Homo sapiens: one gene and its partners. The protein of the gene in region 3 interacts with the protein of the main gene of each other region in a pairwise test. Each region holds a gene or a part of one and is shown on either strand. Other genes may lie near its edges. The genes, in order: AGXT, APBB2, PLEKHG7 and GSN.

Evidence for each region.
Region 1: the proteins of PLEKHG7 (region 3) and AGXT interact in binary tests that used the Homo sapiens proteins (3 or more experiments, as listed by UniProt).
Region 2: the proteins of PLEKHG7 (region 3) and APBB2 interact in binary tests that used the Homo sapiens proteins (3 or more experiments, as listed by UniProt).
Region 4: the proteins of PLEKHG7 (region 3) and GSN interact in binary tests that used the Homo sapiens proteins (3 or more experiments, as listed by UniProt).

The regions. Positions count from the first base shown.
Region 1 is NC_000002.12:240,863,935-240,871,846, reverse strand, and holds the start of AGXT (alanine--glyoxylate aminotransferase), read right to left. Parts: upstream 3,024-7,912; 5' UTR 2,982-3,023; coding exon 2,817-2,981; intron 2,678-2,816; coding exon 2,485-2,677; intron 1,204-2,484; coding exon 1,139-1,203; intron 499-1,138; coding exon 398-498; intron 1-397. UniProt on the Homo sapiens protein: Peroxisomal aminotransferase that catalyzes the transamination of glyoxylate to glycine and contributes to the glyoxylate detoxification.
Region 2 is NC_000004.12:40,819,508-40,826,542, forward strand, and holds part of APBB2 (amyloid beta precursor protein binding family B member 2), read right to left. Parts: intron 6,464-7,035; coding exon 6,380-6,463; intron 4,253-6,379; coding exon 4,137-4,252; intron 2,544-4,136; coding exon 2,364-2,543; intron 1-2,363. UniProt on the Homo sapiens protein: Plays a role in the maintenance of lens transparency, and may also play a role in muscle cell strength. Involved in hippocampal neurite branching and neuromuscular junction formation, as a result plays a role in spatial memory functioning.
Region 3 is NC_000012.12:92,768,954-92,772,955, forward strand, and holds the end of PLEKHG7 (pleckstrin homology domain-containing family G member 7), read left to right. Parts: intron 1-29; coding exon 30-127; intron 128-1,134; coding exon 1,135-1,242; 3' UTR 1,243-3,502; downstream 3,503-4,002.
Region 4 is NC_000009.12:121,327,139-121,333,354, reverse strand, and holds the end of GSN (gelsolin), read right to left. Parts: intron 6,048-6,216; coding exon 5,873-6,047; intron 4,465-5,872; coding exon 4,340-4,464; intron 4,118-4,339; coding exon 4,040-4,117; intron 1,968-4,039; coding exon 1,907-1,967; intron 922-1,906; coding exon 752-921; 3' UTR 513-751; downstream 1-512. UniProt on the Homo sapiens protein: Calcium-regulated, actin-modulating protein that binds to the plus (or barbed) ends of actin monomers or filaments, preventing monomer exchange (end-blocking or capping).

The DNA of each region.
Region 1 (7,912 bases), on a different chromosome or scaffold from region 3:
GCCCTGTGCACCCCCATGCGGGGATGAGGGAGGCTGGAGGAGGGAAGTGGAGGGCATCAGGCAGCTTTAGTGTCCTGGCAATCTCGGGGTGAGGTGGGGACAGGCCCTGGCAAGATATGGAAGTCTGCACCAAGCCCTCTTCAGCCCTGGGGACAGAGGTCAGTGGGCACTATGGGGGCGCTCGGCCAGGGAGCACCTGAGCCTGCCCTGGGACCTGGGGTTGTCTTTAGACTCAGCCCAGAGCAAAGAGGACCTGGGAGGTGCCTGCACCCCATACCATGTGACAGAGGCTGGGGTGGGGACCAGGGGCAGAAGGACCAGAGGGACCAGTGCCCACCCCTCCCCATAGCCTGGCTCTGAGCTGTGCTCCAGTCCACCGCCCTGGGGCCAGGCTCACCTGTGGCAGAGTTCCCCGAAGCCATCAAGGGGCTGCAGCACGCCGGTGGACGACTCCCCGTGGGTTAAGAACAGCAGCACTGGCTTGTGCTGGGCCAGGCCCTGAGGAAGCAGGGACGGCTGTGGGTGGAGCTCAGAGGGGCAGGGGCCAGAACACCCCCACAAACCCCCCATGGGTGGCACAGCTCCAGGTAGCAGGGGCTGGGCCTGCCTCTACTCCTCCCTGATGGTGTGCATGGGAGGAGGAGGCTGGGGCATCTCCGCTCCGGGACAAGGGCTTTTCCAAGAACAGGACTTTGGTGCAGAGATGGAGGAGGGTGCCCCCAGCCTGTTGCCTGGCCTGTGAGGGCTGTTGCTAGATGGACTGAGTCCCCACACTCCGGGTAGGCTGAGGTTGACTTCAGCCCACAGGGTGGGGTATCCTGAGTGTCAGGGACATGTTCTGCAGCCTAGACTCCAACTCGGCCTCCTGCCTCCAGCCTCTCTGGCCCTGCCTACAGGACCAGGCTCCTGACTCAGTTTCCCTGCCAGACAGAAGCCTCCTTACCAGTCTTCCCACCATTCCCAGGTAATGGAACCCTCCCCTGTGGCCGCTCACCAGATGCTAGGATGGGCTGAGGGTCAGCCACCAGCCTCCCGGCCATGATCCCACCCTGCTGGCTGGCCAATTCCAGGCAGCCCCTGAGCCAGCATGCCCACTCCCACCTCCTCCCGGCCCTGACCCCCACCCCGGGTCCCCTACCTCCTCCACCTCCTGCAGTGTGTAGTGGCCTCCAGGGTCCTTGGTCATCGGGTGCACTCGGGCTCCTGGGTGCAGGACAGAGTGGGCCGTGAGTGTCCCGCACACACTGTAGAAGCCAGTGTTGGGCACCCGTGGCCCTGCTGAGCAGGGCCCTGTGAGGGCTGGACCCCACCCACCGTGGCACCCTGGCTGCCTGCCTGAAGAGGAGGGTGGACTCTGCCCAATGAGAGCCTCTCTGTGTGTAGAGCCAGGGCCATCTTGACCCCCCTGCTGTTGGAGCCAACGCTCCTGGGGCACTCTTGACAGAGCTCAGCTCAAATGCCCTTTCTCAGGCCACACTGACCAGTGCCTCCCCAAGCAGAGAGTGAGCTCCCGGGAGTCAGGGCTGCACCTGGCCCAGGGCTGGCACAAAGAGTGTACCTGGTCCAGGGCTGGCACACCACAGGTGTGATGGATGACAGACTGAAGGATGAGGGGTGAGTGAGGCAGCAGCCTTGACCTCTGTTGGAGCTGGGGACTCCAGGAATCAGGCCCTCACCCCCTCCCTGTCTCTGCCCTATCCTGTGTGCTGTTCAGGGCCAGGTTGTGGGAGGGGAAGAACCTGCGGCCAAGGGGACAGAATGGGGAAAAGGGAAGCCATATACCACAGGCATCTGAGCCTGCGTGCCCTGATGTCCACTTGGGGTCCTGGCCTCTGCCGACCCTGGGTCCCCTTGAAAAGTTTGTGGACTTGGGGTTGGGACCCTCTTGGCTGTTGCGGTCGCGTATTAACCAGCATGGCCATTGTGGAGCTCACCAAGCTGATGTCCCTCAATGCCACAATCAATCATTAAACCCAGGGCACACTCCTGCTCCTGTGTCTCTCCCAGAAAAGTGTACTCCGGAGGCGAATACTCTGCCCATACCTCCATATTTTGTGTATCACATCAAGATTCCAGAAGGAAGGCTGCTGAGATTTGAGGGGAGGCTTCAGCTTCTGAAACCCCACCCTGTCACAAAGCAGAGCTGGTGCCTGGGGCCCTGGACAGCGGCCGGGGCTCTCAGGAGTGTGTGCTGGGACCAGAGGCTTCCCTGTAGTTCCGTCCTGCACATGCTCCAGAAACAGCTCAAGGAGACTGGGGGGATCGGGGCACCTGTGCTGCTCCCAGCCCTATCAGAGTCAGGCCTCATGAGTGCCCGACACCGCCTGGAGGAGGCAGTGGGCTGGCAGGAGGTTCGTGCGCACAGGGCCACAAGGTGGGTAAGCGCTCACCCAGGAACGGGGGCTGCCAGCTTCAAACAGAGGGAGGCCAGGGAGGCCTTGAAGGATGGATCCAGGGCCATCCCCACCTGGGCCTCTCCCTTACCTATGCGCTCCCCGATGTCCACGGCTCGCTGCCCCCAAATGCCATTGGCCCCAACCAGGAAGGAGTCCCCAGGCTCCAGCACATTGACCAGGGCGGCCTCCAGGGCACAGTGTCCCGAGCCAGAGATGACCAGTGTGAGTGGGTTCCTGGTCTGGAACACGTACTGGATGCCTTCCTTGATCTCGTCCATGATCTGCATGCGGGTGGTATAGGGTGAGACCCAGGCTCCCCGCCTCCCCAAGTGAGGAGGCAGTGACCCCCTTCCCTCGTCCACGATCTGTGGGTGGGAACATGGGTGAGACCCAGGCCCCCCGAGTGACCCCCACTCCTACCTGGTACATATCCTTGCTCATGGACCCGATCATCTGCAGCCCCCCGGCTGCCATGATGCGAGGAGGCAGGTTGGAAGGACCAGGCCCCAGCAGGAGCTGGTTGGGGATGGAGAGGGGCTTGAGCAGGGCCTTGGGGGGGGTCACCAGCAGCTTGTGAGAGGCCATGGTCCGCACCCAACCTGCCGCTCGGGAACCTGGGGCTGCACTGGCCTTGGCCAAAGCCTGGAATATTTCCCAGCAGGGCGGACACAGAGGTGAGAGGTGAGGATTGGTGGATGGGCTTCCGTGGCAGCCCTGCCTTTTGTTCCCTGAGGCTTATCTGTGCTTGTGCTGCGGGTCACGGCCAGGCAGCAGGGGACGAAGCCCTCAGGCAGAGGGAGCCCCCAGGGCTGAGTGACAGAAAAACAGAGTGTGACAAAGCTGTCCTCACCCCAGCCCTCCTCGCTCCCACTCTGAGTCCTGCACGTCCAGCCCCTCTTATTCTGCTTAGCTCAGGGGTGAGAGAAGTGTTTCTTAAAGGGTCGGAGCACAGATAATTGAGGCTTGGCAGGCCCTGTGGTCTATGTTGCAACAACTCAACCCTGCTGCGTGCTTGCAAAGCAGCTGCCAGAGGTGTGGGCGTGTTCCTATAAAACTTTATTTACAAAAAGCAGGTGGCAGGCCAGATTGGGCCCATGGACTGTGGTTTGCTGACCCTGGCGCAGCTGATGGGAAGGCTTGTAAACCAAAAATAAAATTCGAAGGCCCCCCAGCAACCATCTGAATGGGGTTCCCTGTCCGCCAGGGTGCTCTAAACTTTAACCCGGAAGACGTTCAGGCCATGCCACATCATAACCCCCAGCATTAACATCGACATAGACCTTAAGTCTGATAGGAAGCATTTACCATCTATTTTCTCTCTAAATCCCGCTACCTGAAGGCATCATCTGCTCCCTGCAACCCCTATTTCATAACCCAGACACTCCTTTCTGCTGATAATAATTCTTCAGTCAGTTGCCAATCAAAATATGTTTAAATCTACCTATGACCTGGAAGCCCCCCAATTCAAGTTGTCCCGCCCTTCCAGATGGAACCAATGTAAATCTCCCATGTATTGATTGATGCCTCATATCTCCCTAAAATGTATAAAAGCAAGCTGTGCCCCGACCACCTTGGGCCCTTGTGGTCAGGGGTGCACCCTTGAGCTTGGCAAGGATGTCCTCCCTCCTGAGGCTGTACCACGGGTGCATCCTTAGCCTTGGCAACAAAAACTTTCTAAATTAATTGAGACCTGTTTGAGGTACTTTTTGGTTTACAGGCTCAATTTAGCAAGCAAACCTGCATGGTATACAGACACACACAAGGCAGGGGTTGCACAGTGAGTTTCAGCATGCTGCATTCCAGAGATGTATAGAAATTCTAGTTATGTATAAGTTTTAGGTTGAAAAGAGGCCTGGAACCAGGTGCCAACTTTAGATAATAGGGAAGTCTAATTCATTCTACATTTCTCAAATAAAGAGGCTCCCCTCCACCCACCCCACCTGGGGCCTGCTTGATGGTCTCCAGGTGATCTTTGCTGTCCTCATTTTCCCTCTGACAAATATCTTGGTGAAATCTTTGACCCTTCCTTTTCTGCCATGCTCATGTCCACCTGCTTCCTGTTGGGGTCTCAAGAAAGGGGAAACGGCACAGTGAAGAGGGGTGTCCAGTGCGCCTGACTACTTGCTGCTGAAAGGGAGTTCAGGGGGGTAGGTCACGTTTTTCCCTTTCTTGCTCTCGGTCATGAAGGGAATAAAGGGTCATGAAAACTTGTGCACGGAGGCACGTGATGGGATTCCATCAAGAAGCCCCACGTAAATGGGAGCTGCAGTTGCAGGCCGGTATTTCCATCAAGAAGCCCCATGTAAATCGAGCTGCAGTTGCAGGCCAGTGTTGGGAATGCATAGCCTTCTGCAGGTGGAATTGTTCTCATGTAGAACATAGAAAAGCAATCAGAGCATTAAAAAGGCAGGGACCAAATATTAAAAGAAAAATGACAGAAGATAAAGGTCTAAGGAATGGGGGAAGCCAAGTGATTTTTTGAAAACCAATCAGTAAAAGTTTTGGCCCAGTCTTGGTTGCTTTGGGAAAGTGTGTGTAGCCATTTGGCTTGTTTGATGATTTCTTGGGCATCGGTTTCCACTTCTCCAGACACATAAATGTAGGTGCAACGGGTCCTGTTGATGACAGCACAGACCCCTCCTTGTTCAGCTAGGAGGTAATCCAGAACTCACCTGTTACCAGACACCAAAATCCTGCTTGTGAGTCTAATGACTTGTAGAGCTGATAGATGGGTGCCAGCTTTTGCTATTTCAAGGGAGGCGGTAGGTTCTCTTACTTGTGATTTCCTGGTAAGTAAAACCTCCCCAAGGGGTAAGAGTTGTGATAGTTCCCACAACTCCGGCCACAGTAAGTCCCAGGGCCCTTTTCCTTCTAGAAGGGAATTCTGAATTAGAAGTGATGTTTAAGACAGTGATTTGGGTGGGAGCTATTGTTCCCAGGCTACAATCACCATAGTGAAGAGAATGATCAAGGTGGGATAGGGCCAAAGCTTGAAAAGGGTTTAAATAGTTTTTAGTGGGGCTGCTAAGCCATAAGAGCCCAGGAGGGGCAGGATGATTATTTTAATTAAAATGTTGGGAAAAAAGGAAATGGGCCTTTTGACAGTTTTAAGAGGACTCATATGGGGGAAAGACTATGTTTATGTACTGATGGAGGAGGTTTAAAAGCAGGCGGGTGCCAGTGCATGGCATAGGATGTAAACCAGGTGGCACGGTGGTTATTTCCTGCACTGGTTGCATCATTATAGTAACATACATGAAGGTATTAGGAGTGCAGGGGTGCTGTATACTGGGAGCCCCACTATACTGGTCCAGTTTAACGGCTTATAAATTGGCAGTGATGAGATAGAGTCAGATTTTTTTTTTTTTTTTTTTTGAGATGGAGTCTCACTCAGTTGCCCAGGCTGGAGTGAAGTGGTGTGACCTTGGCTCACTGCAACCTCTGCTCCTGGGTTCAAGCGATTCTCCTGCCTCAGCCTCCTGAGTAGCTGGGATTACAGGCACCTGCCACCACGCCCTGCTAATTTTTGTATTTTTAGTAGAGACAGGGTTTCACCATGTTGGTCAGACTGGTCTCGAACTCCTGACCTCAGGTGATCCACCCACCTCTACCTCCCAAAGTGTTAGGATTACAGGTGTGAGCCAGCGCACCTGGCCAGAGTCAGAGTTTTGATTGTAGGAGGCGAAGGCCTCAAATGAGTCAAAGTTAGCTGCATGAGTGTCATTATAACAAGGTGTACCTCCCAAAATAACATTACAAGTTAAGGAAGTTTCAGTGATATTGTAAGTGTGGATGGTGGGGGAAGTAATATGATAGCACGAAGAGGGAGGTGGTTTCCAATTTACCAGCACAGAAGGAAATGGTCGGGGTGGGAAGGAGTGGTGAGAAGAATAATGAAATCCCAACAGTACAGTTTGATTGGAGACAGGGTGTGCTTACGAAGAAGAATCTACATGGCTTGGAGTAGCAGGTTGTGGACGGCAAAGCCAGCCACACAGAGTATTTTCTCCTCTCACAATAGCATGTGAGATGCTGAAGATGATATTGTCAAACCAAGAGGATTGGGAAGTTTTTATATGAGAGATAAAGAGAAAAACATGAAAGAAAGAAAAAAGGAGTCTCATTGTTCTAATTCAAGGACTGTTACAAAAGTTGCTCCAAGTATAATTAGAAAAACCACCCTGCAAATAAAAATCTAGTGCAAGCTGAATAATTGTATGTGGGTCTTGAGAAATGGGGATTGGATAAAGAGACAGTAAATTGGCTGGGTGTGGTGGCTCATGCCTGTAATTCCAGCACTTTGGGAGGCTGAGACGGGCGGATCACCTGAGGTCAGAAGTGTGAGAACAGCCTGGCCAACATGGTGAAACCCTGTCTCTACTAAAAATACAAAAAAAAAAAAAAAAAAAAAAAAATAGCCGGGCATGGTGGTGCATGCCTGTAATCCCAGCTACTCAGGAGGTTGAGGCGGGAGAATCACTTGAACCCGGGAGATGGCGGTTGCAGTGAGCCGAGATCGCACCATTGCACTATAGCCTGGGTGACAAGAGCAAAACTCTGTCTCAAAAAAAAAAAAAAAAAAAAAGTAAGTGAATTGAGGATAATCTCAGAAAATTGGAGGACCTAAAAACGCTTCTAGAGTACATAAGGAAATGAATGACAAGGGAGGGAAAGGAAAGTGAATGATAAACACAGCAAAAGGCTTACGTGGTATCCTTTGCTTTTGAAGAGAGGTTAGTGTCACCTGGTTGTTTGCAAAACAAAAATCATAGATCTTCCAAGGGCTCAAAGTGTAAGCAGGCTGGAGTTCTGGCGGCAGTACAGACTTTATGTGGCAAAGGTGGACCCAAGGGGAGAATCCCTGCAGTTAACAGCTGTGGGAGAGGCTATGAGGACTTGAAAGGGTCCAGTCCAGAGGGCTGGAAGGGGTTTTCTGTCTGGAGGCAAAGTTTTTAAATATACCCAGTCCCCAGGTTAACAGGAGGTCTTAGTTCTGATGAGGAGGGGTCAGATTTTGGACAAAATTTATCCTGGTATTCAGTAGTGGCCTGGATAGTTTGCCCAGGGAGGCATCACATTGAGACAGATAATGAGCCTCTGGATCAAGTAATAAGTCCGTTTGTAAAAAGGGGCATCCATAAATAATTTCAAAAGGGCTAAGGTGGGTTGAAACCTTTGGGAATTACTCTAGATCTTAACAGGGCAATAGGAAGAAAAGTTATCCAAAACAGTTGAGTTTCTATAGAGAGCTTAGTGAGAAGGGTTTTCAAAGCTAGCTTGGCCCTTGGATGACTGTGGGTGGTAAGCAGCATGTAAGTGATATTTTATTTGGAGGGCCTCACTGATTCCTGGAGTAATAGAAGAAATAAAGGCCAGGCCATTGTCTGATTGGAGGGATTGAGGGACCCCAAATCGAGGAATAATGTGTTCTAAAAGAGCCGTAGTTACTTCTGATGCTCTTTCTGTTCGAGTGGGAAGGCTTTAGTCCAGCTTGTGAAAGTGTCTATAAAGACTAA
Region 2 (7,035 bases), on a different chromosome or scaffold from region 3:
CATTTTCCACAAAAGAAAACCTAGCTGGGCATGGTGGTGCTCCCCTGCCGTTCCAGGGAGGAGTTCAAGACCAACCTGGGGAATATAGCAAGATCCCATCTCTTAAAAAAAATAAAATAAAATAAAAATAAAGAATAAAAAAGGGGCAGGCCTCTCCTGTCCTGAAATAAACACATGAACAAACCCTCCAATGCTGCCCTTCAAGCTCCCCCTCACTGGCAAACTTTGTAAGTTATCTGCTTTTAGGGCCTCCACTTCTTTTTCTTCCCAGTTACTTCTCAATCCAGCACAGTCTCATACTTATTTTTCTTATTTATTTTTTTGAGACAGGGTCTCGCTCTGTCACCCAGGCTGGACTACAGTGGTGCCATCGTAGCTCACTGCACCTCGACCTCCTGGGTTTGAGCCATCCTCCCACCTTAGCCTCCTCAGAAGCTGGGACTACAGGCATGTGCCACCACGCCCGGCTGAAAGTGAAGATCCTCATACTTTTATTTACAGCACTTTCTACACTGTAACAGAGTTTAGGTTTCTGTGTCTCCCCCACTATACCTGAGCTCTACAATGCAAGGACTGTATCTCAGTCATGCTGAATGCCCCAGATTCCAGCCCGTAAGTGCGAGGCTGAATTAAATGAAGCCCAGGGGCTTCACATGCAGCAGTTCTCCCCCAGCCAGGCAGCTCGGTGCTTCTCAAAGCCTCTGCTCCTGTTTGTTCCCAACGCTGCTCTCCTAGCGTGGACGCTCCTCCTCTCTCCCATCTGCAGAAGGTAACTGGGCTCCTGGCTGATCGCCACCTCAGCCTTGTTCCTCCAACCTATCCTCTACTTGGTTGTCTTCTTTTTTTGCTGGATACTCGTCTAAAATCTAAATACAGGCTGGGTGCGGTGGCTCATGCCGGTAATCCCAGCACTTGGGAGGCTGAGGCGGGTGGATTACCTGAGGTCAGGAGTTTGAGACCAGCCTGGCCAACATGATGAAGCCCCATCTCTACTAAAAATATAAAAAATTAGCCAGGCGTGGTGGCAGGTGCCTGTAATCCCAGCTATTTGGGAGGCTGAGGCAAGAGAATCACTTAAACCCAGGAGGCGAAGGTTGCAGTGAGCTGAGATCGCGCCATTGCACTCCAGCCTGGGCAACAAAAGCAAAACTTCATCTCAATAAATAAATAAATAAATAATCTAAATACAATCAATTCAATCCCCAGTTTAGCAATCCTTGCTGAAGAAAATCAGGCCCCCACACGCCATCATCATAAGCCCGCCATGATCTGGACCGCACCTCCTTCCACTCGGGCCCAGCACCCAACCTGCTGCTGCTGGAACACACCTGCCCACAGGCTTTGGTGCCCACACTCATATAGCTCCCTCATTTTTTTTTGAGATGGGTTTCCCTCTTGTTGCCCAGGCTGGAGTGCAATGACGCGATCTCGGTTCACTGCAACCTCTGCCTCTCAGGTTCAAGTGATTCTCCTGCCTCAGCCTCCCGAGTAGCTGGGATTACAGGGATGCGCCACCACGCTGGCTAATTTTGTATTTTTAGTAGAGACAGGGCTTCTCCATTTGGTCAGGCTGGTCTTGAACTTCTGACCTCAAGTGATCCGCCTGCCTCAGCCTCCCAGAGTGTTGGGATTACAGGCGTAAGCCACCACCCCCGGCCCAGTTCCCTCATTTTTATTAGAACTTTTGCAGTGTCTGGCATAAGAGGGGCACAAAGACACATGCTGAAGGAATAATGAGGGATTCTTGTTTGTTTCCAAGTATCCATGTGGTATAAAGAGCTCTGACTTTGTCACCTGGCAGCTTGGGGCTGAATCCAGGCTCGGCTCTGTCACTTACCGACAAGCCCTGAGGCCCATTCTCTAACTTCCCTAAAGTCTCTATTTTCTCATAAATAAAACAGAACTAACAACTACCTAACAGAGTTGTCGGAAGGACTGAGTTAACAGATATAAATAAAATATATAAGAACGGTGTACAGAAACCAATCACTGGAAACAAAAGTCATTCAATGTATTGATTTTTAAAGTACTGAATTGAACCCAAACAGTACCAACTCATACACGACCAACATTTCACACATGAAATTGATTTGGGATCAAGGATTGACCGTCGTCAAGGTGGTGGTTATGAAACTCATCGGAGCCTCTATCTGGCCCCACTTCTTTCAGGAGTTCTGGCCTTTGGAGATGTAATCTGTTTATCATAACTGATTCTGGCCCTAGGAATGACGGCGTTATAAAGTAAAGCATTACTTTAGGGATTCGACTTTTTTCATTTCCGTGAGTGATTCTGCTATAATGTATGGCATATTAGAGATGAGCAGAGGCGGGAGGGCTCAACAGCCTGTACCGGGATAACTCACCATGCAGGCGGCCTGCACCGCCTCAGACACGTTACCAGCATTAGGCTCGCACCAGAAAACGTGGCACTCAAAGCGCTGGTTCCCCGTGTCCATGATGAAGGCAAATGTGTGGACGTCCTTCCCAACACCCATGAAGGACAGGAATCGCACACGACATTCCACTAAGACTTCCTCTTCATTCTGCAAGAGACATTATGCGGCATCCAATCAGGAGATCCCAGGATCAAGCTTAAGAGTGGCAGCACATAGGAACTGGCATTCAGAAAGTATAGCCAGGCCGAATTCAGAAAGGACCTGTGTTTTTCTCGAAAGGCGGAACCTTGCCCAAATGTCTGAAGAGGCCATCACTGCATGGCTACCCTGTTCTGGAGGTCATTCTTGCTCTGAACTACACTGCTGTCATGGGGTGTGATGTGGGTCCCATTCTCCATTATGCTACGTGGCTGTGAGTTCACTGTGGGGAGGGACAGTGCCGTCCATACTTCTTACATCTAGCCCAAATACAGGACACCTGGTGGCCCAAAACCCATTTGGCCAAGTAAACCCCCAGAGCACCAGAAAAAAGGGATTCACGGTATCTTTCTTCGTCCAGTGATTCTTACCCAAACTAAACAGCACACTGAATCACATTTCCATCTAAAACCATATAAAACAAAAAGCTGCCAAATCAACAAAAAGTTGTCAAATTGTTTTTTTCTTTTCTCTCTTGCAAACTGGTGTCCATCTGGGATCCACATGAGGCAGCGTAAAGAAATGTTCAGAATTCTTTCTCATAGGGATGAACACCACATCCTTTGCAAGAACCATATGCAAGTTTTGAATTAATAAACACATCCAAAATGTTGACTTTTGGATCATTAACATCTTGACTAATTAAATATTCACTCTAGTGCCTTGGGAGTGTTTAATGAGCAAAGTACACTAGTGTGAGAGGTCGGGAAGTTTTCTCAGGAGGAAGGAGGCTGTGGTGGTGATCTGGGTAAGGGTCGGGTAGGCAGAGGGTGGAGCATGGAGGGTGCAGTGCTTGCGATGATGCTGGTGTGGGGAAGGGCGGGACCTACTTGAAGAGGTGAGGAGAGCTCAGTGTGGCCAGCTGGAGGCAGGCAGTGAGCACCCTGCTCCTCTCTCCAGGGTGAACCGGGCAGCTGTGGGGCAGGCTGATGACTGGTGGTCTTTCCCTGGCAGGTGCTTCACAGAGGCAGAATAGAAAAGTGGGCACAAGTCTGGGCCAGGTTGCCTGGATTTAAGTCCTGATTCCATTGCTTCCAACTGTGTGATGCTGGGCAAATGACTTAGCCTCTCTGTGCTTCAATTTCTTCAACCACGAAACTGAGATAATTTGGGCTGAGGCTAATGTGGCCTCTTCTCAAGACAACCAATAGCTCCTTCTGCTACTGATAGTCACAGGACTCTCCCAAATGGAAGCATCTTCTGCTTTTCATCCCCAGATCACACAGCCCAGGCAATACTGGCGCCCTGAGAGTGAGCGACTACTAGCGTCACACACTCACCTCTAGCAAACAATTTCTCTCTGGGGCACATGAGGAAGACAGAATCAGAAGCACCAGAAGAGAAGTTTCTCAGGCCACAGGAAAACAGAGGTATGCACAGATTTAGACCCAGACAAAGGGCCAAATCTTTCAAATGTAGGCCATCTTAATCACAAGGATGCACAACTCCGGCCTTGACTATGTTCCTAAGTTCCACAGAAAACCACTGTATCTTATACTCACTGTATAAGACACACCAATGTCATCGAAGATTCCTTCTCACCTTTTCACTGATGACAGTCACAGTGGCATCAGCCACGTTCATGTTCACTGACAGCCAGTCCTCCTTGTTGGATGAGGTCATAAGATTTTCTATGGCACTGTTCAAAATATCCATTCCTGGGGACAGAAAAGGATAATTTAAAGTGTCCTAAAGCCACTTACCACACTCAAATGTGGGCCCAAATCACCAATAACAGCTACGCCCAGACTGATCTTTTTTTAATAGACAGGACACTTCATTCTCATGTTTGCTCAACAGGAATGAAATACCAGCTTCTGGCCGGGCGTAGTGGCTCACGCCTGTAATCTCAGCACTTTGGGAGGCTGAGCCAGGATCATTTGAGGTCAGGAGTTCGAGACCAGCCTGGCCAACACGGTGAAACCCTGTCTCTACTAAAAATACAAAAATTAGCTGGACATGCTTGCTTGAACCCAGGAGGCGGAGGCTGCAGTGAGCTGAGATCGCACCACTGCACTCCAGCCTGGGCAAGTATCAGTGAGACTCTGTCTCAAAAAACAAAAAAAGAAAAAGAAAAAAAAGAAATAACAGCCTTTTCAGTAGGAGAGGAGAGTCAGGAGAAGCTCCGGGGACCTGGTGCCTTAGACGCTGTCTACCTATGCAGACCATGGCCCTTCAGCCTCTCTCCACCCTCACTGTCTCTTGATGGCACCTTTACAGTGGATCCCCCCATTGAGTAGGGCCCTTTTGCCAGCTGTTTCCACAGTTTTTCTGGGGGATAGGGGTGGGAGTGACAGCTTTATTGAGGTATCATTCACATGCAATTCACTCACGTAAAGTGTGCAATCCAGTGGATTTTAGTACATTCACAGAGCGCACCCATCACCATCATCAATTTTTTTTTGAGACAGGGTGTTGCTCTGTCACCCAGGCTGGAGTGCAGTGGTACAATCACGGCTCACTGTAGCCTCAGCCTCCCAGGCTCAGATGATCCTCCCACCTCGGCCTCTGGAGTAGCTGGGACTACAGGTACATGCCACCATGCCCAGCTAATTTTTTGAATTTTTTTTGTAGAGATGAGGTTTTGCCATGTTGCCTGGGCTGGTCTTGAACTTCTGGGCTCAAGCAATCCACCTGCCTTGGCTTCCCAAAGTGCTGAGATTACAGGTGTGAGCCACCATGCTAGACCTACCATAATCAATTTTAGAACAGTTTCATCACCCCAAAGAGAAACCCCGTGCCTGGTAGGGGTCATTCTGCATTTTTCCCCCACTCCCCAGACCCCTAGACCAAGGCAACCCTTACCTACTTTCTGACGCTAGAGCTCTGCCTATTTTGGGCGTTTCATATGAACGTAATCACACAGTATGCAGTCTTTTGGGACTGACTTCCCTCATAGCATGTTTTCAGGCTTCATCCACGCTACAGCGCACTTCAGTCCTTCATTCCTTTTTATTGCCAAATAAAATTCCACTGTATGGAAGTATCACATCTTATTTATCTAATTGTCAGTTGATTTGTCAGGACATTCAGGTTGTTTCGCTTTTTGACTCTCATCAATAATTCTGCTGTGAACATTTGCATACACGTTTTTGCATGCACAAACGTTTTCACTTCTCTTGGGTCTACGCCTAGGAACTGAGTTGCTGGGTCTAAAGTAACTATGTTTCACCTTCTGAAGAATGCCAGACTGTTTTCCAAAGCAGCTGCACCATCTTACAGCCCCCTTGGCAGTATATGTAGCTTGCGATTTCTCCACAGCCTTTTTTAGCCCTGGTGAAGGCTTCATCTCCCAGTCTCTTTTTGGCTTGGTATAGCCCAGCAACTACACTCTGCCCCTGGCATGTGAGCTGAATGCTGTGTGTGCCACTACTGTGTCACTCCTTGACAGCATGAAGCCTCCACAGTCCTTTCTCCTGGCCCGCCAGCTGACAAGACACGAAGCAGGTGCCCTGGCCTCAGAGATGGAGGCCTCGTTTCAGAGCAGCGGAGCTCTTCCACGGCCCTGAGTCACACAGCTCTGGACTACTGGGTAAACAAGAAATCCACGTCTGTATTGCTAAAGTCCTGCATGCTGGGGATGACAGGTCAAAGCAGCGGGGCCTGTCCCTCTACTCATCTTTTGATCAGGACCGTTTATGTTCTCTGGCAGGTGACAGTGTGACAGTTTGATTCAAGACAAGGCGTGAGAGTAAACAGCAGACCTCACCCTCCTCGGAGGGCGAACGCCTCCTGTGAGCTCCCGCACACTTGCAAAGTGGAAAGACAATAAACATTTCACATACCGACTGGTTTGTCTACAGGTAACATGCCCAAGTACTGCACGTGGAACTTCTGGACCAGCTCAGTCTTTGGTGTTGGAAAATCTACTACAGGGAACAAAAGCAACACATCTTTCTCAGTGGTTCCAACACACATGTACACAACAGCCGTGGCTCTGCATCATCTGAATGCTCAGGACACGCCCTGTGCCATAACGCCCTATGTTTCTGGATGTAAATGTAACAACTATTCTACAAGAGCAGCATTACTCCAGATATTGGGGCTCTGTTAAAATCCTGTTCAACTTTCAAGATAGGAATGCATGTGAAAGCAGGAAGTGGCATCTATGTGTTAAAGCTGCTACTGTCTCTTTGATGTATATTAAGTAAAGTAGCAGCTTTTGGTGTCCTATTTAATTAGGTGTGGTTGATGCCCAGAGAAAATGTAACCTCAAAGGGCACAATCAGAGACATAGGAAGATAACTGAGTTCCCCCAGTAATCAACCCACGTTTTTTTTTTTTTAGAGACAAGAGTCTCGCTCTGTTGCCCAGGCTGGAGTGCAGTGGTGCGATCTTGGCTCGCTGCAACCTCCATCTCCTGGGTTCTAGCAATTCTACAGGTGCATGCTGCCATACCTGGCTAATTTTTTGTATTTTAGTAGAGACAGGGTTTCACCAT
Region 3 (4,002 bases):
CTTTTTGTCTTTGTAATATCTTTTTCTAGTCTTTGGGCTGAGAAATGCTTTTCTTATACAACACGAAAACAGATATCGACAGTGTATAGCAGCATTCTTATTACAAGCCCAAACGGAAAACATCAAAGTATGTATTTTAATTTTGTAGGTCTTTGATTCTTCAGAGTTTACATAAGCTCCCCCCAAGTGTCTTAAGTAACAGTGAATGGAAAGTTTTGTGTTTTTCTCTCACCCACTTGGGAAGGGCAGATTTGGGAGGAGGGGAGGGGTACATCTAGTCCATATAATGCTCAAAAGCCTCAGTATTGACAATTTCCTCACACTTGTGGGGTTGAGGAACAATTTCCTCACACTTGCGGGGTTGAGGAACAATTTCCTCACGCTTGCAGAGTTCTCCTGCAGAAGCTCAAGAACTGCCTGCGTTCTACAGTTTCTGTAGGAAATGGGGGAAGAATTGATTTGGATTGCATGATGAACCTTTAAGATGCTCCAATCAGTTTCCAAAGTGCATATAATAGGATATTAGCTTAAGGAGGGCCTGGCGCAATAATGATCCCTGTCAAGTCAGCTTGTCAACCTTTGAAAAACTGCCATTGTTTTTACAGCTATGGAGTTGAAAGAGCAGCTGCCTGACTCTGGTTTCTCTGTCTTAGAAGTTTCTATTTTTGTATTTCCCCTGGTAGGCTTTCATCATATCTACAATGTGGCCAGACAACAAATGCAATATTCAATTTCCTGGGTCACTGCCCTCAGTCTCTTTCAAGTTATACTACAGGTTAAGAACTTGTTTCCACAGAGAATAGAAATTCCAGCAATGCCACTTTCAAACTACATATATTCTCAGTGCTCATTTTTCTAATGAGTTATCATTGACTATTGTTTCTTGATTACTCATAACTGTTATCCAACATGCATACCATACTCATTTAGCCCATCTGCATTTTCCTGTAAGATTAGAAGTATTTATATTAGATGTAAGAAAGAAAATGGGAAACATATGCAAATGTTTCATTAGTCTTCAGTTTTAAAGAGCTGGTCAATAAATATAGCAGAAAATATTAGCCCAAATATGTGAGAAATTGTCAGCTTAACATTCTAATCTCTATTTATGTATTTTTTTCTTTTTTTCAACAGAAAACATGGATGGCACAAATAACAACTGCAATTTCTTGCTTTACCAAGAGTCAGGAAACCAAGAAAATATCTTTATTCACATTGCCCGCAGAATCCTCTGAAATTTAGGGACCTAAAACAAGTGGCATGTCTTTTTAGAAGATTATGGTTTAAGGTATAATTTCATTCAAAGTTTTGTAACACTTAGCTAGTGATAAGCTAGAAGGAAATTTGCATTTTAAAGAAGTTTCAGAATTTGAAATTTTGAGCTAGGAAAATCCTCAGTATAGAGGAATAATGACTGCAACAAATTTGAACTCTGAGGAATTTCTTGACAAATATATACTGACATCCAGATTACCTTCTAATGCTTCCGTCAGGTTTGTAAGAGGTGTGAGTGAAGAAAGGTGCTAATTTGTAAAGGGTGAATGATCAGATAAATGGAGTATCAGAAGGAAAACAATGTCCACTGCTTATGTCCAATATGAACTCCAGCATCTTACTCTGTATCCATAAAATAATGAAACCAATTTTCCTTCATGGCCTGTCAATCAGTCTTAACCGCTTTATAGTCCTACCTCAAACATAATGATAAATCTTTAGATACAAAGCTTGATTGTTCTTTTAATATACAAAGCAATAAATAGGGACTACATTTAAGTAGCAGTTTTAAAATTCCTATTCTCAAACTCATCTCAGGTATATAGTACTCTAACGTGGAAGTAGAAAATCCCAAAGACTAAATTCCATTACTTTAAGATAGGAAGAAAAAAAAAATCTGGCTTTCACCAGTTAACACTTTTGCATGGCTTTTCTTGGCCTGTTGTGAAGTGTACAGATTTTCATAGACATAGTAAGGTATCTGTCTCTTAACTTTATTTTTTGAAGAATGATGGTGTTTGCCATAAAAATACTTTCTGGTTTTGATTGGTGTGTGTGTGTGTGTGTGTGTGTGTTAGCACAGTACAGTCACTTAATTTTATTTGGCAGGACTTCAAATTTCTTCAGAATTTTTATCATGAAAGGCAGTTTGAATAATTATTATCATGGCAGGATATATACTATTAACTACATTCAAGGAACTAGTTCTTAGGGTCAGATTATTGCATCAAAGGGAAGTCCACAAACTTCCATTTCAGAATCGTACCTTTTGCAATTTGCAAAGTGAAAGTAGTAAATTTATCAAATTTGGCTGCAAGACAACTGAAGCCTTAGCTGATTTTGTTAAGCTGAAGAATGGGGTAGAGAGGATAATGTTTGGGCAAGTCATGTGCCCAGTAATTCCTTGAGGAAGGTGAAATTTCACTATGCAAACAAAGCAGTAAAGACAAGTGCAGCAGAAAGGCTTTTGTACAAGGCAAGCACTATTAGAATGGAGACTAATAACCTCTTTATAATAATGTCAGAAATTTAATAGAAGAAAAAAAGGAAAATCTGGAGGACAGTAACTATTGTTAATAGCTAAGAATAAATGAGGTGGAGGGGAGAAAAAGGGGAGAATAGACTTCAAGCTTCAAGTGAATTCCTAGAGATGGCATCTGGATGGGACTGAAAGCAGTTATGTCCAGGAGAATACAATATAGATTATGCAAGAGAAGATTTTATAAAGAAATTTCTGGTTAAAAAAAATTTTTACATTAACAATCATCTTGCAAATGTTTAGATATAAACTAACCTCGGAGGTGAGCAGTGGACTAGGATGAGGTGGCCTCTCAAATTCCTTTAGTCCCATGAATCCAGCAACCACAGACTTACATGTATAAAGGTAGTTTTCTCCCTCTGAATCTCATTAAAGGGAGAGACAGACTGACTAAATTAACAAAATATATAAAACAGCTCAAGAATATGCTGTACATAAACTGGAATTCTATAAAGCTCACAAAGTAACATGTCTAATATACAATATATTAGATGTTTGAGGATATGCACATTAAACTCTTTGGAGGGTTTAGAATGAAGCACATTCGAATGAAGGGATCACGGGGGTCAGAACAAAAACCATTCTAGAACCGTGGCTCCCAGGAAGAAAAAATAGCAAAAAACAATGGCACATTGGGCCTTCCAAAAAGTATCTTTGGGGAGGGGAGGGAGAAAAATAAATAAATAAATAAATAAATAATGTTTTAAGTATCTTTAAATGGTCATCTGGGTATTAAATGCAGACACACAATGAAATAAGGGGTTAATTACATATTTTTTATATTTGTTTTTAGTTTTGTTAATTCTCTACAATATTAAATGGAATGTCTAAGGCAAAATGGCATTAATAATTTCTCTTGAGATCAGGAATTTAATTACTATTCGAAATTGAACAACATTAAAACACCACTGTCTATATCCAAGTGCAAAGTCCTAATATTCTGTAAATAAATTAATGCAAAATGGTTAATACAGTGTTCTCTCTTTTGTTAGACAAAACAATTTATAGTCACAGAATACAACTAGTTTAGAAAGAAATGTTTTTAATATAATATTTAAACATATTAAAAAAAAGCAACAATTCAATAAGGATCCTTCCATTGTTCTTTATACAGATTTAAATGCTGTCACGTACTTTATCAGTTACATTTATAATTAATAACCTTCCAATCACTGAGTTTAGAAATTGCAGTATTTACTGAGCTAACCTTTCTCACAAAGTAAGGCACAACTACATGATCACAAGTAGTAAACACAATACAAATAATGAACCCAAAAACTAAATGAGAAAATGTTCATGCATAAGTATCTACAGAACTTATGAATATATGATCCAGTTCAAGGAATTACAGAATGTCATATACACAACTGCATTGTGTTACAATAAATTTATTACTTCTACACAGAAAGAACTTAGTGACTTCTAATTCTATTTTATACAATTTTACATAAATTTAGTAAGTTTATGCA
Region 4 (6,216 bases), on a different chromosome or scaffold from region 3:
TCTCGCTCTGTCACCCAGGCTGGAGTGCAATGGTGCAATCTCAGCTCACTGCAACATCCGCCTCCTGGGTTCAAGAGATTCTCCTGTCTCAGCCTCCCGAGTAGGTGGGATTACAGGCATGTGCCACCACGCCTGGCTAATTTTTTATTTTTAGTAGAGGCAGGCTTTCACCATGTTGGCCAGGCTGGTCTCGAACTCCTGATCTCAGGTGATCTGCCTGCCTCGGTCTCCCAAAGTGTCGGGATTACATGTGTGAGCCACCGTACCCGGCCCCTCCTTATTTCCTTTAGCATAGGTATCCCCCAGGACAATCTACACACCTCTCAACTCACTGTGGCATCGCCTCTCAGGGCACCAGGATTCACGCACAGGGTGGATGTAGCCTTTCTACTAGTTTACAGGCAAATGCTAGGCACCTCTCTGGCCATTCTCAGAATTACCAGGGACACAGGCAGAGAAGACGCCGGCTCTCACTGTCAGATGGGCACAAGGAAACGAGCCACACTAGAGTACACACTTCAAAATGTTTTTATTGGATTTAATTTCCCAAACACTGACATTTTAGACAATTTTGCAAGGACTCTGAATTTTTGCAGGGCTATTTTTGGATACTGTAAAAAAAAAAAAAAGAAACAACACACACACACACACACACTCATAGCAGAGCTGCTCTGCTCGCTCTAAGGCCTCTTTGAGGGAAGGACAGTTCCAAAAGGCACTGACCGGTGACATGGGTGGGCCCTGCCCCTCCTCAGGCAGCCAGCTCAGCCATGGCCCTGTCCAAGGGGTCCACAGACCAGTAATCATCATCCCAGCCAAGGAACCAGCCCACAAAGGAGGGAGGCTCAAAGCCTTGCTTCACCACGGTGATGGGCGTCCGCCGATCCCGATTGGCTGGGTCCGTCTCGATGTACCGCTTAGCTGCAGACACACGTGCAAGAAAAGGAAACCCCAGGAATTCTTAGTGCCTCCCACACCAGGGAGAGGGTGACTCAGGACAGGAGTTGACAAAGAAGAGGGTCTATGGTCCTACTGTCCCTACTGCCCACCCCCTGCCCTGGGCACCATCCTCCTTTAAAGGCATGATACCCACGTGGGCTCTCCACCACCCTGCTCAGGAACACAGGAAGGAACAGGGCTACGGCTTAATCTCCTGCTTCATAAAGCTTATTACTTTCCCTTGCAGTCCCCTACTGGAAGATATGGGAACCAACTTTTGGGTTCCCAGCTCACAAATCAGATCTATTCAGCTGCCAAGAATCTGCTTTGCAACATCTTTTTCTTTTTTTTTTTCATTTTGAGACACCATCTCATTCTGTCACCCAGGCTACAGTATAGTGGTGCGATCATGGCTCACAGCAGCCGTGAACTCCTGGGCTCAAGCAATCCTCTGACCTCAACCTCCTGAGTAGCTGGGACCACGGGTGTACACCAACACGCCTGGCTAATTTTTTTGTATTTTTTCTAGAGATGAGGTTTCACTATGTTGCCCGGGCTGCTTTCAAACTCCTGGGCTCAAGTGATCCTCCTGCCTTGGCCTCCCAAAATGCTGGGATTACATGCATGAGTCACCATGCCTGGCCTGCTTTGCCACATCTAAACCTTGACAAGTTCAGCTTCTGAGTATTCTGGGAACTTGAAGTGACTTCTCATCTGTCCCTTCCTTCTCCTGGAACAGAGGAGAGCCTTCTTTGAGAAGCCTCAGGGTTTCTGAAGGAACTGATGTGTTCTTCACTATCCCAGGCAGGATTTATGAGGGGCTGGCCCACAGAGGAGGAAGTCCCCACCCTATCTTGTCCATCAGTCCCCTGGAAAGATGCTCATTCCCAGACCTGTACAGGAGCCACTCCCAGCACCCCACAAGCAACGGACCCCTCCCCCCGCCCCCAGGCACTCGGGTCCTCACCAGAAGTCAAGGCTTCTGTCTTTTCTTCTTCTTGAGAATCCTTTCCAACCCAGACAAAGACCTGGAGGTGAGATGCAACAGGAAAGGTACATGAGGAGTGCTGATCAAATTCACGGCTGGAGGAAGACTGGGGAGGGGCCAGGTATCAGACCAGACAAAGCCCTCCCCTTTCTAACAGAGCCCATGAACTAAGACTGGAAGGATTTGGAACAGAGGTTGAAAACTGGCAACCTACAAACATGTTTTGTTTGCTCACCCACCACCTTGTGTTAGCCAACAATGTCTTTTTAAACCGTTATGACATAAAAATCTAGATTTCCAACTTCTCTTTAAAAATTGGAGGATCTAGCAGCCTGGGCCTTCAAACCTCACTTGAGTCAAGCTGCGCAGGAGCTGCCCCTTTGAGATGAGCAGTTCTAGTTTGCCTCAGACTCCACTGCTCCTTCACGTCTCCCCAGCCCAGCCTGCTTCATTCGCTAACATTGCCAACCAGGTACCATCAGGCATTGAGTTTGAGATTCTTCTCTAAAGGTCCATGAGTTATCTCTTGAACAGCATTCACTCGTTCAACAAATGAGTGGCCAAACATATTCTCACCCATTTATTTATCCAACAAATATGCACCGAGAGTCTACTATGTGCCGGTCTGTGTGCATCTTTGTCAAAATGGGCCTAAGGCTTGGAATAAAAATAACTCACCCACCACTATCACCATTTTGAGTCTTGTTACAAGTTCTATTACACATTATTTAGCTGATTTTTATGTATCATCTATTTTTATGCATATCTAAAATATTACTTCAAAGAGCACCTATCATTGATAAAATGGCATTAGACAATAAAATGTCAGACTTCATTTTTCTCACTTTTTTTTGAGACGGAGTCTCACTCTGTCACCCAGGCTGGAGTGCAGTGGCATGATCTCAGCTCACTGCAACCTCCGCCTCCTGGGTTCAAGTGATTCTTCTGCCTCGACCTCCCAAGTAGGTGGGATTATAAGCACCCACCACCAAGCCTGGCTAATTGTTTTGTATTTTTAGTAGAGATGGGGTTTCACCATGTTGGCCAGGCTGGTCTTGAACTCCTGACCTCAAGTGATCTGCCCACCTCAGCCTCTCAAAGTGCTGGGTTTACAAGTGTGAGCCAACATGTCTGGCCCTCTCTTACTTATTTATAAATGTGTTCCCAACTAAAGTGGAAGCCCCTCGAAGGCAGGCATTCTATTTTGCTCATCATAGGATTCTCAGCACTCAGCATTTTGCCTGCAAGACCATGGTGCTGAATAAATGTTGGCTGACTGAATCCCTAACAGATGAACAAACAGATTAAGTAGCCAATGGATCAATCAATGACAACTGCTGAATGGCTCAAGCTGCAATCATTTTTGGTCCCGATCTTCCAACTGGGGATTCCGAGCATCCCTGTGGGTAGTGTAGAGTCTTATGCCTTCGTGGCCAGCTGCTCCGTAACTCTGAGGACTCTGGGAGAAGCCACCTTGATAGGAAAGGTGACTGACCTGACACCCCTGTGAGAACGTAAGCCCTGGGAGAGCAGGAAAATGCCTACTTTATTCATTGCTCTATCCCAGCATCTCAAACATAAAGCACCTGGCACAAAGCAGTGCCCAATTAATATTGGTTGAGTAAGTGAATGGCATCTTCCCCTGCCAAGTCCTACATAATGGCCTTCTCTAGGAGATGAAGTGGAGACAGAGCCCAGAGCCCTCAAACCAGAAGCAGGAGCCCTCTAGAGCCTCTAGGTGACACTGGACAGTTTATGCCTGCAAACAAGATGCTGCTAAGTTCAACTTCCTCTGCCAACAGATTTAAAGGAAGAGTTCACGCTCCTGCAAGGTCTGGGAGAGAATGATGAAGGTCATGTGATTTGCCTTTATAGGGCGTTTTGCAGCTTTCAAGGTGAGTGTATCTGCAAGGGAGGTACCGCCACTCCCAGTTTACAGATGAGGAAATGGAAGCTCAGAAAGAAGAAGTGACTTCCAGTACCCTTAGAGACTTTTCTGGCAACACCTGGCACTGCCCCCTTTAGGTCCTTCTAGCAACTGATCATAGAACTGGAAGTCTAGTTTCTCCCACTCCCTCTGGCACAGAGAGCCTTCACCTGTCCTTCACCCACCTGGTCCCAGGTGTCCAGAAGCATGACGTCATCCGTTGCCAGGTCTTCCTGCATGAGCTCACCAGGAACCTCTTCGATCTGGGAAGGAACGAAAGAGCATCAGTGAGATGTCTTCCCTCCCCTGGGTGGCCTTCCTTTATCTGCCCCCTGAGGGAGTGGCACAGCTGGCTGCAGCTGGCAGGGGGCCCCTTCCTCTGTGCCACACCATCAGAACTGTTTCTCCTGCCCCTGCTGCCGGCCAGTCCTGTGGAACTCGCCTCCCGAGGGGAAAGCAGAGGTGTGACCTCCGCAGGGGCTCACCACAAAACGTCCAATCTTGTTGGAGCAGGCAAAGAGGCGAGGAGGATGGGCATCCATCTTCTTGTCCTTCAGCCGTGGGGATGTGCGGTAGGCAGCCTTCCCGCCCAGGGCCTCCCAGAAGCCATCTGTGAGGGGAGGCCACGCCAGTTGCCAAGGGACGCCATCACCCCTCTCTCCCATCTCATCGGACCCTGGGACCAGCCCTGCCCAAGCGCAACCAACTGCTCTCCCTCTCCTCCCTCCATCCTAAAAATCCCAGGAGATCCAGAGGGAAGAGGCCTGAGGGAATTGGAAGGTGACGAAATAGAGGCCCAGAGAGGGCAGACTTGGCAGTAGTCACACAGCCAGGACCACTATTGGCTTGAGGCTGACGACAGCATTGCGGGATGAGGACCATTAGCTCCACTCAGCTAATGAGGCAGTTGTGGCTCGGAGAGGTTAAGCAACTCACTCAAGGTCACACAGATGGTAAGTGTTAAGACCAGGATACAAATCTTGTCTGATTCTAACACCTATACTCTTTCCACTATACCTGCTCTGTCCATGTGCAGCCATTTAAATTTAAATTCATTAAAATTAAATTCGACTAAAAGTTCAGTTCTTCATTCCCACTAATTCCCACTGGTCGCATTTCAAGTGCTCAACAGCCACATGTGACTAATGGCTGTCAAATTGGACTCGGCAGATACAGAACATGTCCATCTGCATAGAAGGTTCTGCTGGACAGAGCTGCTTTAGACCAAGTCACTCTTCACCATTTCTGTTAAGCATCAAGCAGGTGGGAATGAACTCAAAGTAACAGTATAAAGACTGCAGGCTGGCAGAAGGAAGAGCTGCCCGGCCCACATTCTGGAAACAGAGCAGGCTGGTGGCATTTCTGTCCATGGAGAGTCTAGAGATGCAAGGAGACCACTGCTCCTCTGACGCTATCAGCCCTGCCTACCACCTTTCAAGGCTTCCTAGCGAGGGACCGCCTCCTTCCACAGACCAACTGCTCCTTCCCACACTGGGCTCTCCTTTCTTTCTTTCTTTCTTCTTTTTGAGACAGAGTTTTACTCCTGTTGCCCAGGCTGGAGTGCAATAGCGTGATCTCAGCTCACCGCAACCTCCAACTCTCGGGTTGAAGTGATTCTCCTGCCTCAGCCTCCCGAGTAGCTGGGATTATACAGGCATGTGCCACCATGCCCGGCTAATTTTGTATTTTAGTAGAGATGGGGTTTCTCCATGTTGGTCAGGCTAGTCTTGAACTCCCGACCTCAGGTGATCCGCCCGCCTTAGCCTCCCAAAGTGCTGGGATTACAGGCATGAACCACCACGCCCAGGCTAGGCTCTCCTTTCTTTAGCTCCTGGAGACCTCCCTCTCTCTGGCCACAGCCCTCATTTTAATGCAACTGCTTTTATTTAACATACATTAGGGGACAGGCCCTCAGGTGGGATGGAGGGGAGGATTTAGAGCCCCCAAGCTGAAGGAAAGAAGGGGGAAACTTAATAGCTGCATCCGGACAGCAGCAGGCCCCCCACCCCGGCTCCTACCTGGCTCGCTGCCTTCTGCCACCTGCACAGGTTGGGCCCGCAGCACCCTGAGCAGCTCCTGGGCCCCCGTCTTCTCTGCCTCGCTGGCTCCTGTACCCACCCACAGGTAGGCGGCTGAGGGGGTTTTCAGAACAAAGGCATCGTTGGAGTTCAGTGCACCAGCCTTAGGCAATACCTGGGAGGGTACAGCTTGGTTAATCAGGAACCAGACAAAAAGCCCTCAGCCCCCTCCTCACAGCCCAGGAGACCCCGCAGCAGGACTAGCTCTCAGGTGGGGACTTGGAGGAACACAGCCCATCAGAGCTGAGGGCACAGACTTTGGACCCTGATGGCCTTGGTTGACT